Linked DNA regions of Homo sapiens: region 1 is linked to region 2. Evidence: fine-mapped expression QTL. A gene starts in region 2. The other region holds a variant in brackets. All regions are shown on one strand. Distances are between the middles of the regions.

What was found. PIP is the estimated chance that this variant, and not a neighbour inherited with it, causes the effect.
Region 1: its variant is the best candidate, but not a certain one, in a credible set for the expression of C12orf54 in tibial nerve (GTEx, PIP 0.55).

Annotation. Positions count from the first base shown.
Region 1 is chr12:48,345,630-48,348,543 of GRCh38, reverse strand. ZNF641 (zinc finger protein 641) reads left to right here. Exons shown (of 6, transcript NM_001172681.2): 2 at 429-637; 3 at 1,201-1,292. The coding sequence starts at 454. Among named protein-coding and RNA genes, the nearest start is that of ZNF641, 3.8 kb to the left of the region's middle. The variant T/C (reference allele first, on the strand shown) is at 1,472.
Region 2 is chr12:48,481,041-48,483,954 of GRCh38, reverse strand. C12orf54 (chromosome 12 open reading frame 54) reads right to left here and starts at 1,457. Exons shown (of 9, transcript NM_152319.4): 1 at 1,379-1,457; 2 at 594-715. The coding sequence starts at 658.

The sequences.
Region 1 (2,914 bases), 140 kb after region 2:
TCTGTGTGATTACATCCATCTTGTTGAGTGCAGGTCTATATGTATTTCTTCCTGTATGTTTCCAAATTGCTTACTTTCCTGTACTTCATGTGCTTGAAATTAAATGGATAGCCTTTGAATTTCCAGGACAGTTCTTTTTTTTTAAATGAACTTCTTCTAACCTTCAGGTATATTCTGTTTCTATAATGAGGTCCACAAAATACCAGTTAGTGGCTTTGCTACGTAGCACCTGCCAATTTCTTAGTTCCTCCAAGAAGCTTGGTGCAGGCTCCGTTGATCGGAACACATCAAGCTTTTAAAGTTCATCTTCCAGCAAGCTCCTCCTATCTAGTTTTGTCTATTATCCCTGGGCCTGTTCTTCATAACTCCCTTAGAAATATCACTCCTTTCCCATTTTCATGGGCATTGCTGATATGAATTTGTTCCAGGTCACAATTTGGGTCTGCAGCAGAAATGCTTTCAGAACAGACAGCAGCGCTGGGGACAGGATGGGAATCAATGAATGTACAGCTGGATGGAGCAGAGCCCCAGGTGGAAAGGGGAAGCCAGGAAGAGCGGCCATGGAGAACAGTACCAGGACCTCTGGAGCACCTGTGCTGTGACCTTGAAGAGGAGCCACAGTCCCTTCAGGAGAAGGGTGAGAACTCACAGAGTGTGTGGGAAGCACAGTGCATAGTCTCCTAATATTTATTCCAAAAGTAGGGTTAAAAATCTCCAAATTGCCATGGACTAAATAGCATAACCTGTACCAGGACCAGCCCATTCTTTCTCAGCCCTGGTCACAGGTACAGAATAGGCTCCTGAATTCAGCAAACCATGCAACTGGGCTTCTCTTGTTTCTTCATAATTACTCCCTCCACATGCAAATGCATAATTAGTGATACTGAATGAGGGAGATGAAGGAAGTGACAGCAACCTGATTACTGTTGGATAACCCACTCAGTAAGATGTAATTTACTAGATGAAAATTACATTCAAGTACTGTAAATTCAAACTATAGCTAGTCTAACTAAAAGCCATCTGATACCCTTTCAGAACATTTTGAGTGATGGCCTTCTCATCTACATTTATGCATTTGAGTTTTACCAATGGGCATAGATACAGAAGTTGTGACCCTTAAGCCTCTCTAAAATGGGGCCCAGGCCCCATTGAGAAAGGGTAGATCGTTATTCTCTAATGTTTCTTCTCTCTCCTTATCAGCTCAGTCTGCTCCCTGGGTTCCTGCAATTCCCCAGGAGGGGAACACTGGAGACTGGGAGATGGCAGCTGCACTTCTTGCGGCTGGATCACAGGTGAGCTCTGCTTCCCTTGGCGTCTCCTGTGGTCCCATCACTGCTGCCTTTGTATTGCTTTCGCATCAGCCCATTGATGAGTTGGCTCACATGATCATCAATGGTATGTTCATCTTATAACTGAATAGATTCTATCCCTTTCCAAGGGGTCATAAGACCCTTGGAAAATTAAATGGACC[T/C]ACAAGAAAGGGAATTCCTTGAGGTTAGGGTTTTTTTGAGTTTTGTTTTGTTTTTTGTTTTTGAGACAGAATCTCACTGTGTTGCCCTGGTTGGAGTGCAGTGGTATGATCTTGGCTCCCTGCAACCTCCACCTTCTGGGTTCAAGCGATTCTTGTGCTTCAGCCTCCCAAGTAGCTGGGACTACTGGCACACGCCACCACACCTAGCTAATTTTTGTGTTTTTAGTAGAGACAAGGTTTTGCCACGTTGGCCAGGCTGGTCTTGAACTGCTGACGTCAGGTGATCTGCCCACCTCAGCCTCCCAAAGTGCTGGGGTCACAGGTATGAGCCACCGTGCCTGGCCAAGGTTAGGGTTTTTAATGGATGGCTGTGTTTGTTATCCACAGGAGGATTTTAAGAATAATTAATTACCTTCCTTTAAGAAATAAATCTGGAAAGATTAGGAAAAGAGGACCTGAAGAAAGCTTAGAAGAACCTAAAGTGGAAGGATTGGGTAGATGAGGGAGCATTTATGGAAAAGAAGAGGAAGAAGGTTATAAAGAGGGGCAGAGCTAGAAAGGAAATTAGGTTTAGATTCAGAAGGCAATAGGAGAGCTGTGGAAAGCTAATACTAATAGTGTTAGTACTAATAGAGTACACCCCCAGAGTGTTTATCATGTATGCCATTTTCTGGGTGCTTTATGTATATTAACTCATTTAATTCTGAGAACAACTCAGTTATCCAATTTTACAGATGAGGAAATGGGGCAGGGAGAGATTAAGGCACTTGTGTAGGTCATGCTGCAAGAAAGTGGCAAAGCTGAGTCACTTGGCTCCAGATTCTGAGCTCCTAACCACCATACTGTGCTGCCTAAAAATATAAAGATATGGCCAGGCACGGTGGCTCATGCCTGTAATCCCAGCACTTTGGGAGGCCGAGGTGGGCAAATCACAAGGTCAGGAGTTCGAGACCAGCCTGGCCAACATGGTGAAACCCCGTCTCTACTAACACCACAAAAAAAATAGCTGGGTGTAGTGGTGGGTGCCTGTAATTCCAGCTACTTGGGAGGCTGAGACAGGAGAATCGCTTGAACCTGGGAGGTGGAGGTTGCGGTGAGCCAAGATTGTGCTACTGCACTCCAGCCTGGGCGACAGTGAGACTCCGTCTCAAAAAAAAAAAAATGCTGTGGCAAGGGAGGCAAGAAAGAATGTTTTATCTGTAGCATTTTGTGCTGATAGAAAAGGCAGGGTCCAGTGGAAGAAGGAGGAAATGGTACATAATTTCTTCATAAAAAGAGTAAGGCCAGGGAGAAGTGACTGAGTAGACACCTGTAGCTAAACAGAGGTGGTGATGAGTTTATGGTGCCTCCAGCTTCTCATGGCCCCACTTGGGAAATTCCTCCAGTAACATTACACTCACTCACTCCTTGACCATCTACCTTTACTCCTCTCCTCATTTCCCT
Region 2 (2,914 bases):
CCCAAAGTGCTGGGATTACAGGCATGAGGCACTGCACCCAGCCCCAAATTTCTACAAACTCTTATCTCAAAACATCTGCTGCAAGTTCAAAGGCTCAAGCCAAGTTCTGATTCCTTATGAAGCTTTCCTGACCCATAAGTTCACAGTAAACCCTCCTTCTTTTCTGACTTCATGGATACCATCACCTGGGTCTCATATTTAGCCTCAAGCAGCAGATTCTAGCCCTCTTTTCCACTGTAGGCCAAGAGAAGCTTGATTTTAGATGGTTGACCTTGATTTACACTATAGAGGATATAAAGGACTTAGGCAAAGTCAATCCTGGAATAAATTAATGTCCCTAGTTTGTATACCCCGCCAACCCCTAGAGGAATTGCAATTGATGCCTGATTTCTAAATTAAAATGACAAAGATTTGCTATTATCTCTTTCATTAAGGAGATGGAGAAGAGGGAGGACACATGAAAGTCCCCATCTTATTCAGCCAGGAAGCAAGTGAAGCCAAATGAAGAGCCATAGAAGACAGGAGGCCCTGGTTCTTCTCCCATAGAGTATAGCAATCTAAGGATGTTTGAGGGTCATCATTAGCCCCATTACCTTCTCTGCTGCTTGGAGGTCATTTCTACCTTTTGTTCCTGATCCTGGCAGGGATGCTGTGCCATTTGTTCTCAGACAGAAACCAAGGACTCTGGAGCTGAAGATGGAGATAGCTCCAGGCCCTGGAGAGGCATAAATGAATATGCGGAGAAGGCAGGTACATGGTGAGAAGAAAAGCGCTTATTCAGTGGAGAACTACCAGCAGTTAATGGAGCATTTGTATTTTGAATGGGTGAGTGTGCATGTGCATGTGTGTGCTTGCATATATGTGCATGTATGTGTGCATATGCATGTACATATGCATAAGGAAAGATGAAGGTAAGAGGAGGGTAAGAGGAAGGAAGTATTTGCCCTGGGTAAAATCTTCCTATAGTCTTTGTCAGTAACAACAGAAATTGCAGTGAGGAAGTAGACGAAAAAAAAAAAGAGAGAATCTAAGTGAAAAATAAGTTGGCTGAGATTGGGGATGGGGGATTGGCCAAAGGGTCTTTGAGTTCAGGCAAGGACAGGAAATAGTGTAGAGTGAATGCAAGATTGTCAAATACCCCACCCCCTCCCACCTCAGTCAGAATTTTCATGGTTAACTAAGGATAGAGGAGTTTCAGGATGGAGGGCCATCAGCTCCAGCCTTAAAGTGCTTTGTAGAGAAGAAGGGCTCATAGGCAGTGGCCCAGACAGGAGACAAATCCTCCTTTGAGAAGTTTCCCTCCCACTTTTCCCACTCCCACCCTTCTTGGCCTCCAAGCCCCAGTCAAGAACGAGGTCAATTATGCCTAGAAACTTACCCTGCTTGGTTCCCCAAATTACACTTTGCCCCACTCCTTCACCCCTAGACTTTTTCCTATTTGAGCCCCATCTCACAACAGCCTCCTGTTCCCATATCAACCTTGCCATTTTCAATACTTTGTGACTTCAGCTGTGACCTCATAGACGGACAACTTGCTTTCCCTCCCAGCCACACACTAGGCTCCATTCAATCCAAACGATAATGGTAAAATGGAGGGATAATGTTGTGGGATTTTAATTTTAATTTCTGGGAATTTTTGCTTCTTCATTGCCTTCTACCCATTGCATTGGAAATCCATTGATTCTTAGAGATGAAAGGAATGAGGCCAGAAGAATCCAGTTTTTACTTTGAATTTCAAAATCAGGTCTGAGAAATCTGGCTTTCAATTTCAAGAGCTAGGTCCTTCAGAGAGAAATGGTTTTGTTGTGAATTCCCAAAGTCTTTGACCTAGAAAATCACCAAAGATTTGTGAATGATCATGGATTTAAAACCATTTAGATTTAGAAGGGATGAAAACAGTTTTTCTGAAGAAAGTATAGGGTTTTAATACGGAGGCAGGAAGTGAAAATTAGGGAAGAGGCATTAGGTGTAGGTGTGCAACTCTGGGACCTGCTTCCTTTTGGTGATGGTGCATATAAAATATCCCAATATGTCTAGAAATCTAAGAACAGAAGGAACCAAGGGCCAGCTTCTCCCTTGAAACTAGACCCCTGGAGGAGCAGCCTCAGAGAGAGCACTGTGCCTACATGGGGAGGTCGTGGTGAAGTGGGAATTGTGGTATAGCGTGTTTAGGCAGACAGGACCTGAGATAGTACCTTTCAGGTCCCATAGCCTGCCCAGGTGATGGTGGGAAAACTCCTCATGCAGAAATGCAGAGTGGAGAAGGAGAGGGCTAAAATCTAAAGAGGACTCACAAATCATGCAACCTGCGACAAAATGCCAGGGTATGTACAACAGATGGAGGTGTCAACATTGGCTCGGCGCTCCACCTGTCTTTAGCAGACTTTAAAGGAAAGGCATACTGTCCCATCCCTTGTTTTGATTTTAGAGCTCCAGGTGCTACTAGTGAGACCACCATGGACCCTCTCTGCACACCACCTTCTTACTATCATGAAGTGCTTCAAATTAGACTCTGATTAGAGGTTACTCTCTCCCACCCTCTAAGAGACCAGCAGGGCCATTTCCATCATAATCTACCTTTTTATTTACCTCAGTTTCCATAAGGAGTCTAAGCTCCTCCCTTTATCATCTCACATCACAGGGACTTTTACCCTTTCATGGCCAGATGTATCTCATAATCCAACTCAATTCCTACCTCTCTCAAACCACCCCAAGTCTTTTGCTATCCAAAAGTCATTTTTTTTAAAAAAAAAACTCTATTTTTATTTTGGATTCAGAGGATACACATGTAGGTTTGTTACAAGGATATATTGCTGAGGTTTGGGCTTCTATTGATCCTGTCACCCAGACAGTGAGCATAGTACCCAATAGGAAGCTTTTCATCTTTGCCCCCTCCCTCCCTTCTTTTGGAGTC